Regions from separate parts of the Homo sapiens genome. Here region 1 is linked to region 2. The links come from fine-mapping of genetic effects on gene expression. A gene starts in region 2. The other region holds a variant in brackets. All regions are shown on one strand. Distances are from middle to middle.

Region 1 (5,376 bases), 240 kb before region 2:
CTCACACCTGTCTGCCACTCGATCCCCAGGCATGACCTGGCCACACCCATGCAGGGTCCATGTTTGTCTCCGGCAGGCGGGGGTCACACCAGCTGCGGCTTTGCAAGGCCTGGTCCTTTGACCCTCTGCTCATCTATGATCGGGCTTGTGCTCAGCTCACAGCAGGCTTTCCCTGAATGCCCTGAGGTCTATGACAGCTCCTGAGAGCCGACCCCCACTGTGGTTGAGGGTGCTGACTCTCAGCCCCCGCCTGGCACAGCCTCCCCCTCCCCATTGCAGCCTTGCTGAAACGCAGCTGAGCTAATTCTGGGCTCCCTGCCACCCGCACAAGCCCACGCTGCACATGCTCTGACTCACGGCTGAGGCGTCCAGAAGCAGGGATGGGAAGGAAGGCTGCTGCCAGGCACCCACTTGGCATCAGTCAATGGCCAGGGGTCCGTCCTTGGGCCTGACGGTGGAATCCGGGGGTGGATCTGAGACCTCTATCCGCTTTCATCAAATCATACTGGCAGTAGCTAAGCCCACATTTTAAAGCCAGTGAATTTCTTGAGACATGCAGCCATATACTCATAGCACACAATCATGGAGTTAAAACCTGGAATTAAAAATTAAACCTGTTACTCTTTATCACTGAGACCTATTTCAGCATGTGGCAAATTCTTACACTACCGCCACATTTCCCAAACATAAAAACCATTTGATCAGAAAAGAAGGGAGATAATTTGCCTCCAGAAGTTCAATGCAATCTTATTTGAAAACCTTTTCCTGAAGACCTACTATGTGCTCTCCCTCTGAGTATGCCAGAACCTAAGGTGCCATCCCCACCCTTGAGAATCCTCAGTCTGTGCAGGAGGCAGACAGGCATGTCTGTAACCCACTTGTAAAGGAAGTGTGTGGAGTGCTGTCTAGAGGGAAGCCACATGAGAACGGTCACCTCTGTCGGGGGGTGGGAAGGGAAGAGAGCTGGCAAAGCTACTCAGGGTGGTCCGTGGGCAGTCAGCCAGCGGGGCAGGTCCCTGGGCAGAGAGGACACAGGTGTGAGGCCTGTGGTAGGGGAGTGCTTGGGGAACAGGGAGTACAAGACTGGAGCCTGTGGGGAGTGTGGGGAAGGGCTCAGACACAAGAAGCACTGTGGTCAGACTGGGAAGGACCCACGGGGCTGGCTGGGAGGAGATAGATTGGAGGGTGCAGGCAGAGGGCCAAGCCGATGGACTCACCCAGGAGTCCCTTAGTCACTCAGGACCACACCTCCCACCCAAAGGCAAGTCTGGGCATCTGAGGAGTCACGGAAAGCATGGTCTTCGGGAGCAGAAAGCCCTAGCAAATGTACATGGCTGTGCAAGTGACCTACACGCTCTGAGCCTCCCCAGTCGTTAGAATGAAGATTCAGGCAATCCTTTTCTTGCAGGGTTGTTTACAGGATGCAATCAGCTAAGCTATGTGAGAGCCCTGGCAAGGCACCTGGCCTGGGGCAGGTGATCCTGCAGCAACCCAGTAGGATGAGATGGGGAGAATATAAAGCCAGCTTCAGACCCAACTCCATGGTTTACGCTTTATGCGCAGCCCTAGGACCTGGGGAGGTCCTGAATGCATGGAAGCCTCGGCTGCCTCCCTCCCAGAATGGGCATTGTATGTGCCCTGTTGAAAGGCTAAGCAATCACCTCTGCAATGCAGGCTTTCAGCATCATCTGGCCAGTAAGAGGCTGGCTGCCTGCCCATGCCCCTCTCATGACTAGGAGCCAGGAAGCCGAGGCAGGAGCCAGGTAGGGGGAGGAGGCAGGAGCCCCAAGGACCCAGGTGACTGTGTTGGTGAAGCTCTTCACTTCAGAGGTAATTGTAATTGCAGACATGGGAAGGGGCCCTTGAGCAACTCGCAGGGTCCTGCTGGCCCAGCTCCCAGCCCCCCACAGCAAGGAGCACCACCTCCTCACAGGCCTGTTTCCTGGGCTGGACCCTACCCCCTCACTCCCTCCACCCTCCCCTCAAGGTTGGGGCCCAAGCCTGAGCCCACAGCATGAGGAGGAGCCCTGCAGTAGCTTCCAGCAGAGCCTGCAGCCCTCACCCAGACATCAGGTTACGGAAGTTGAGTCCTGTCCCCGCTGAGGTGGGGGGCTCTAAGATTACATGGCTGGATATGGGCCAGGACAGCTTACTGTTAGTTTCCATCCTCTTCAAGGGAGACTTTTTTAAAGACAGGAGCTTG[C/A]GCAGGGCACAGAGGAGCTCTGTCCCCTGCCCCCCACCAGCCTTCGCCTGCTTCTGGGGAGCCGGCTGGCGACCTCATGGAGCTTCACGCTGGCCCCACAACTGGGGCTCTCCTGCCAACAGACCCCTCCATCAGTGTCTCTGCTGAACGTGGGGACATGGACTGAGGCCTGAGGCTGGGCGGCTCCGGGCACAGGTCCACTAGCACTCCTCCAGAGGGAGTCCCTGGGCAGCCAGCCTCTCTTCCTCCTGTGCCCGGTTAGACAGCACCATCCCAGGACTCCAGGCCCCTGAGAGAGAAGAAGGGGAAGGCTGCTCCCAGAGCAGGGCCCAGCCCCAGGAGATGCTGTTTGCAGTTGGAGGGTGTCCAGTGGGCAAAGAGGTGCTGTCCAGAGTCCCCGGGTCTAGAAGACCCAGGGTCTTGGCACCAGCCTCTGTTCACAGTCACAGGTCCCTGCCAGTATGAGTGGTTTTGAGGGGGTTGGCAAAGGCTGCTCAAAGTAGAGAAATAATGAGGGGAGGAAGGTCGACCAGGACAGGACTGGGTCCAACTCATGCTTGGAGTGATAAGAGAAGGCAGAAAAGGACATCACGTGCCAGACCTGAGGAGACTCAGGCTCAGAGACAAGGGGGCACAGAGTGCTGGAGAGGTGCTGGCCACCTGCCCCTTTCTACACGGAACAGCACAGGCTAAGTCCTCCCTTTCAGCCCTGGAGGCAGTGCCAGGAGCTGACCGGAGCAGGTATCATAGCAGTTTCTTTTCTGAGTGTGTGGGAGGCACCTCCTGGAACCCTCAGAGATGAGTGGGGCAAGGCACAGGGCAGGGAGCAGGCCATGGGACCATAGGGACCAGGGATGCCCGGGGACTGGTGGAACATGACTTGCTGTGGAGCCCTGGAGGAGCTGCCTGGGTCTGTGCTAATCCAAGAGACAGGGAGACCTCATGAAAGTCACCTAGATCACAGAGGGACAGCCATCAGCTCTGCCAGGTGAAGGACGAGAGCCACAGAGTGATGGTAGGGGCTGCACTGGGCAGGCAAAGAGGGGACTGCTCTTCAGAGAGGGTGGGCTGCCTGCTGGGGGTGGGGGAAATAGCTGTGAGCCACACATAGGTGTAGGCAAGGGCATGAGTGACACGTGGAAGTTAGGCAACACCAACTTCGGACAAGACATCAAGCTTTCTCCAACTCTCCCACCGAGGCAAGGCACAAAGGCAATTACTAAGCACATCCGCTGACCACCACTAAACCTCCTGGCACCCAAATCAAAGCTCTGACCATGAGGACATGCTTTCTAGGCAGCTTGAGTGTTTCAAGGCATGGCCAAGCCTTGTGTTTGACGAATGACAGCCCAGGTGCCCACTGGGCTGGCCGGGCCATTGCCCTCAGGGTCACTGGGCCAGGCCTGAGGAACTGTCCCAAACTTACAGAGACAGACGGATGGCACAGATCCAAACTCCCAGGACCCTAGCCAATCTCTGGGCATGCTTACAAAAAGGGGAGACTTTCCTAATTATCAAGTGATTCATTGGATTAGAAAAACTGTACTATGCCCACACAATGTAATACTTCGTAGCAACAGAAAGGAAGAAACCACTGACACACACAACTACATGGATGAATCACAAAATAATCATGGGCTGGAAGAAGCCAAAAAGCGCACGATTCCATTTAAGCCAAATCCTAGGAAACAGTGTGAACTGAGTAATAGGGATAGAGAGTGGACCAGGGGTTGCCCTACAGGGGATCTGGGGAGGGATTATGGACGTGCATGAGGAATTTTGGGGAAGATGGGTACGTGCACTATCTTGATCATGGTGTTGGTTTCACAGGTATATACATATATCAAGATGTATGAAACTGTGCACTTTAAATGTGTGCAGATTATATGTCAATGATACCTCAATAAAGCTGTTTTTTTTAAAAAATGCTGATTATAAAAATATAGAAAGATATGAAATCTCCCATAATTCTATCACAGCTAACCAGAAATCTCATTTTTATATGTTTCCTTCCAGTCTTTTCCCTACTCCCACACATAAATATCATTTTTTTTAATGTAGGATACAACCTCTCTTTTTAAAAAGTTTTATTATCCTGAATTTTTTTTCTTCTTTTTAATTTTAAAAGTTCTATGCACCCTGGGAAGAGGAGGTGAAGACAGCAGCTCCCCAGAGAAGGGGTGAGAGGCCAGGAGAGGAGCGAGTCCCTGAGTGGGGGCATGGACACAGGGCAGAGCAGCTGCCTGTTGCCCTGAGCAAGAGCCTACCCGGGGTCAGCACCTGTCCTTCGGTATACTTCACCCAAACCATCTCCTTTGCTAAACTGAGCCTAAATGACAGTACTTTGCACCCAGTATCTGCTCAATCAGAATTTACTAAAGGGAATCTGAATGAAATGAAGCTGAGCCTGCCCTCCAACACATCCTGCACCTTCTGTCTCCTATCTTGGCACTGGCCCCTGCCTCTTCCCCATGGGCCTTCTTCTCCCTCCGGCTCGGCCCACTATCCTTCCTGCCTTCTTCATTTAGCCTTAGATCATGAAGTTCCCTCATTCCCTTGTGACTAAGCATCCTTTAGAAATGTTCCTAAGGGCCTCACTGCACTCCGGCAGACGAATGACTCATTCCCCATCATTGGATGTTCAAATTCCTTCCAAATCTGCACCTTTATATGTAACATTGTGATGAACATCCTTGCATAGGAATTTTGGACTGCAGATTTAATTGTTTCCTTGGGATAAATTCCTAGAAATGGAATCCCCAGGATAAAGGGAGGAATTCTTTTAAAGGGTTTGAGACATCCTGCCAAACTGCTTGGCAGAAAGCTTGCAGCTTCCTCTCCCAAGGCATATGAGAGTCCTTGCCAAACACTTTCACATGCATTGAGTACCATCGTTCACAAAAACAAACAAACAAAAGCAAAGCACACCACAAATTTGTCAATTTAATAGCAAAAAATAGTATCTTACTTTAATAGGCACCTACTTGATTAATGTAAGATTGACTTTCTCACACTTACTGACATTTATTTCTCCTTTTACGAGCAAATTCCTTTTTAAAAATGTGTATACATTTAAAGGGTACAAGCACAATTTTGTTACATGGATATATTGTGTAGTGAAGTCTGGGCTTTTAGTGTAACCATCACCCAAACATTGTACCCAGTAGGTAGTT
Region 2 (5,376 bases):
TAGGGAATATTGAGAGTGAAAAACAATTGTTGAATGGGACATAAGCCAAAAAGACAATGCTTTTTATTATTTACAGAACGTAATTCTTTAGAAGAGAAAAAAAATACATAAATCATTCATTTGTTCACCTAGCCTGGCACTGTGCTTGGTGCTGGAGATACAGTAGTGAATAAAATAGCCAGTGCCTTGTAGAGTTTTGTGCCTGTCTACTAGGAAAGACAGGAGATTATACAGTAATTATATAAGATGCAAATTGTGATATGCCATGAAGAAACGTATAGCATTCAGAGGGACATAACACAACACAAGACATACCACATAAAACTGATTTTTTTTAAGATGGTCTCACTCTGTTGCCCAGGCTGGAGTGCAGTGGAGCGATCATAGCTCAGTGCAGTGTCGAATTCCTGTTCTTAAGCGATCTTCCTGCCTCAGCCTCCTAGTAGCTAGGATTACAGGCATGTGCCACCATACCCAGCATGTTTTTGTATTTTTTTAGAGACAGAGTCTTACAATGTTACCCAGACTGGTCTCAAACTCCTGGCCTCAGGTGATCCTCCCACTGGGCCATAAACTTGATTTTAACGTGGGAAATGGGAAAGCGTATCTCAGGACATTTTTGAAAGCAAGTTGATTAAGAAAGTAAAGAAACAGAATGGCTACTCCATAGAGCAGCCTCTGAGGACATTTATAGCTTTTGCAGTGACATGGTTGTCTAAGTGAATGATGGTGATGGTCATAAAAGTGGAGAGAAGGGGATAGAGTCCAGGTGAAGTCTGACAGGATGTAGTCATGGTTTGGAAGCGGAAAGTGAGGAAGAAGAAAGGGCTTCTGGCAAAAAAGGCTTTAGCCTTTATGCATGCAGGATCCCTGGGGGGAAAGAGTGAGTTCAGGAGCATGGCTTTTAGACTTACCAGGTTTACAAGGCAGTTGTATCTATGGAACTAAAAAATATAAATTTTGAAGTTGTATACAGAAATGGTACTTAGAGCCATAGAATGAATGAAATTGCTTAAGGAAAATGTAGTGTGAGATAAAGATCTGAGGAACTCCAACATTTAGGGCTGACTAGATCAGGGTAGCTGGCAAAGGGGACTGCGGAGTTGGCAGTGAGGCTGGAGGAAAACCTGGCAAAAGGGACTGAGGAGTTGACAGGGTAATGTCAAAGTTGTCCACAGGAATCTCCAGGTTGAGGTAGTCAAATGAACACTTAGATGAATACTGAAAAGTCCAGTGGATCTAGCAATATGAATGTCACCCGTGACCTTAGCAAAAGCACTTTTGCTGGAATAATGGGGAAAAGCCATTTTGGAGTACGTTGAAACAATGAATGGGAAGTGAGAAAGTAGATACTGGATGTATAGCAGTTTTTCCAAGAAGCTTGGCTCAGAAGGGTAGCAGACAGGATGACAAGTGGAAAGAGAAATGAGGTCACTGGAGGATTGTTAAAGAGTACAGCATGTTTGAGTGTCACTTGAAAGGTTCCAGTGGAGAAGCTGAAGAAGTAGGTAAAGGTAAGAATAACCAAGGGACAGAAGTCCTGGAGCAGGGAGGAGGGAATGGGATTCTTTAAAACCTCTTCATCAAGAAACTAGGAAAAAAAACCAAAGTTGTACCATCTCAGATTTCAGAGAAAGGGAATTTAGAAGGAAGTAATATAAGCAAAGAGCAACAATATTCTGTGACTGTTTTTAATAATAACTAGGAAAATTCCTAGTGCAGTTAACTCTGAACAAAATTCATTCCCACCTGCATAATACAAGATAGACTTACTCAGAGTGACCTTGGTAAAAGGTGTGATAATAAAGAAAGGAGGTGTCATTATGTCTTCATTGTAGCTTTATATGAAGCCCTGGTCATTTACCGTATCAGCATCAGCAAACTGAACACTGAATGATTCTTACTCCAAGAGGCAAGTCTTAGTGGTTTCTATTTTAACTGAAGGAGAGATTAATTTCTGTGCAAGGTTGAAAAAGGTGACCACAAATTCTTTGGGCTTCTTTCATCAAGAGGTGAAGTCCATTACCCCACGCCTTAACTCTGGGCTGGCTTTGTTGTTGTTTTGGCCAATAGAATATGGCTGAGGCGCTGCTTCCAAGATTAGGCCTGAATTGAGATGCCCTAGCAGCCAGGCAGCACCTGCCAGAGCATGAATAAGGCTATCTTGGACCGCCCAGCGTAGCCAACCTGTGCTGAATGAAGCCACATGAATATGCCCAGGAGAAACTAGCAGAAGAATCACCCACCTTGCCCACGTTAGAGATATAAACCACTATTTGAGGCAGTTTGTTATGCAGCAAAACTTAGCCGAAACTATTACCTTGCTACCTTGACTGCTGGTGTAATTTCCCATCTCATGGAGTCACAGAGTTTTCTTGCCAACTGCAGTGAGTTGGCAAATGGGAATGATCAGTAGCCTCAGTGTGTTTTCTGATCCACTCCATCCTGTATTATCATCTGCGAATACCGTTTTTCCTTTAAATGCAATGTGTCTTTCAAAGCTGACTTGAATTTCTCACCTTTCGAGTTACCTGCCATTTGGACTCACTTATTTGGAGGAGATATGTAAAGACCCAGCGTAATACCTGTATGCTCAATAAAAAGTATTTGCTGGTACTCCTTCCTGCCCGTCGTGTGACCTGACTGCTCTGGGCTTCTGGGGGCTCCCCCTAAACTCGCTCCACGAAATGACCCCTCCAACCTGGCACGCCCGCTCTCCTACCTTCGCCCAGGGCTGGCCGTTATCTCTGTGCTGTCACGCGGGGAAGTCCCATCTGAACTGGGGCCTTATGACCTTCGGTACTTTTATTCGAACGTAGCCTGCGTCCCTGCCTGGAACCTGGTTCCCGCCCTGAAGGACCCTTACTTAGCACTCCTGCGGGCTGCCGGGACCCCACGGCTCCGCAGGCGGAGAGACTAGGCGCGATCCCTGCGCGCCCCTCCTTCTCTTGCGCTTCAGGGGGCCGGCCCTCAGGGGGCGGGGCAGCATCGCGCGCAAGGCCTGCCGGTTGCTCGGGGTCGTATGACGCACTTTTCCAGCTCGAGCCCTCACGAGGCCGTGGGTACGACCGGAAGCCGCAGGTGGGTGAAGCGGAAACGCTTCAAACCGGGATGTTGCGGGCCGTAGCGCGTGGGCGGCCGTGGGGTCTTGGGCGCGCGCGGTGTTTCTGGCGGTGGGTCAGGACTTGCGGGTCGCCTCCGCCGGTGTTGAAGCCTCTTGTGTGCACACTTTCTCCTCAGCACTTGGGACGACCTAATTTCACTGTTAGGAACGGTTGATCCCGAACACAGGAGGGAGGGTAAATATCGTAAAACATGTTGGACGCTAGCTGTGTGCACGCCCCCTGGGAGCCAAAAGGGCGAAGTAAAACATGCACACGACCGTAATGAGATTCTGAGTAAGTTGTATATCATTAGAGAGGGGACAAAATAATAGGGTCTTGGCGAGGTCTTATGAAGAAGCTGCGCCTGCCTAGAAAGATAGATGGGATTGTGCTGTTTTCGCTTTCAGTTCAGTGATGGGGAGCCGTGTTTGGCAGTGCAGAGGTAGCGAAGTGTCCCAAGAACATGGAAGGTAAGGAAGTCTTCCGAGGAAAAACTTCAAAAAATTAGTCATTAAAGGGTGAGAGTAGAAAGATTCAAAGTGATTTTGAAGGAACAAAATTTAACCAGAACTTCAAAGGCTTGACACTATCCCAACGACTGTGAAATATCCTGAAATACCGTGCATTACTCAGTCGGGGTCTGATCCGCTACTGGAGCATAGAATAAAAAAAGAGGGGCACACCTGTGCCAGATGAATCCACGCCTTCTCTAGGGGAGAGAGGGTATCCCGGCTTAAGAGCAGGGGCTCTCCTGAGTTAAGGAAGTGTCTTCCCCAGAGCCCATTCCGTCAGACGTTCATATCATGTAACTCAGTCCTTTTCTGATTATGTATTCACCAAGCAAACTTAAGAGTTGGCTTGTCACCAGACCTACAGTGAATAATTGCACAGGCTCATCTGAATATCTGATAGATGGTCTATAGTTCTCTTTGTAAATCAATAAGCTGGCAGTCAGGGATTTTTGGACATCCCTTTGTTTTCACTTTTTCTCACTCTGTGTGATTTTTTCTTATCTTTCGGGGTTCAACTGAAATGTCACATCCTCACTGAGGTCTGTTTATTGGTTTACGTGTTCAGGTGCTTAGAACAGCTTCTTGCATCTTTTCTCACATGATGCCTTTTTAATGAGGCTTAGCCTAACAACCCTATTTAAAATTGCAATGTAAGTTTTCTCACATACACAGTTACAATCCTCCCTTTATCAGCTCTACATTTTTTTTTAATAGACTGAATCTCGCTCTGTTGCCCAGCCCATCTCGGCCCACTGAAACCTCCACCTCCCGGGTTCAAGCGATTCTCCTGCCTCAGCCTCCCGAGTAGCTGAGATTACAGGCGCCTGCCACCACGCCCAGGTAATTTTTGTATTTTTGGTAGAGACGGGGTTTCACCATGTTGGCCAGGCTGGTCTCAAACTCCTGACCTCAGGTGATCTGTCCACCTTGGCCTCCCAAAGTGCTGGGATTACAGGTGTGAACCACCTCGCCCGGCCATCTACTTTTTTTAATAGCCCTCCTTATCACCTTTATTCATTTGACTCACTGATGATTCCCAAGTGCTAAGAACAATGTCTGTCATGTAATTGATGAAAACTTTGTTGAATTAATACCTTTGTTGTGTTTTATTCACACTGTATATACAATACCTGGATGAAGAGAGATATTTTTAGCACTATTAAAATACATGCATTGGCTCAATACATGAATTGGATCAATTCTGGAACCCTAACAAGATCACATTTTTGACCAAAGTCAATATCTTGGACTATAGTTAATTTATCAAGGTAAATGCCACTTTGATGTGTCTTGGTTAGGAATCTTTGTTCACTTGAGGGAATACATGGTATATGATAGGAACAGTAAGCACAGAATAGAGATGGGAAAGGGAGAACCCTGTCATAACAGTTAACATTTCATATTTGCCAAACATGAATGGCTTATGCATATTAACACATTTAATTCTCTCAACCATTTTATGACGTCTGAGGCCACTGAAGCAGCTAGAGGTTAAACCACTTCCCTAAAGTCATTAGTAAGTGGCAGAGCCAGGATTAAAAATTTAAGTCCTTAACTACTTTGCCATCCTGCCACACTCTGCACATGCAGACAAGAGTAAGAGCCTTAATCTTGGGAAAAGATATTTCACAAGATCTTTGACAATTTCCATATCCACAGACACCATCCAGCTTATTAGTGACCACCACTCCTATTTGTTACTTTCTCCTTTAAGGCTGCCCCTACCTGAACTCTGGATCCCAGTACCATCACTTTCTCAA

What was found. PIP is the estimated chance that this variant, and not a neighbour inherited with it, causes the effect. A credible set is the group of variants that fine-mapping cannot tell apart.
Region 1: its variant is the best candidate, but not a certain one, in a credible set for the expression of LIPT1 in whole blood (TOPMed, PIP 0.59).

The regions. Positions count from the first base shown.
Region 1 is chr2:98,912,391-98,917,766 of GRCh38, forward strand. The region is part of intron 1 of CRACDL (CRACD like); the gene reads right to left. Among named protein-coding and RNA genes, the nearest start is that of CRACDL, 21 kb to the right of the region's middle. RefSeq lists an enhancer at 184-767 and a silencer at 4,736-5,030. The variant C/A (reference allele first, on the strand shown) is at 2,204.
Region 2 is chr2:99,151,971-99,157,346 of GRCh38, forward strand. It overlaps LIPT1 (lipoyltransferase 1), which reads left to right and starts at 2,997. Exons shown (of 2, transcript NM_145199.3): 1 at 2,997-3,081. TSGA10 (testis specific 10) reads right to left here and starts at 2,972. Exons shown (of 21, transcript NM_025244.4): 1 at 2,723-2,972. RefSeq lists enhancers at 2,604-3,225, 2,615-2,814, 2,875-3,104, 3,135-3,334, 3,415-3,494 and 1 more.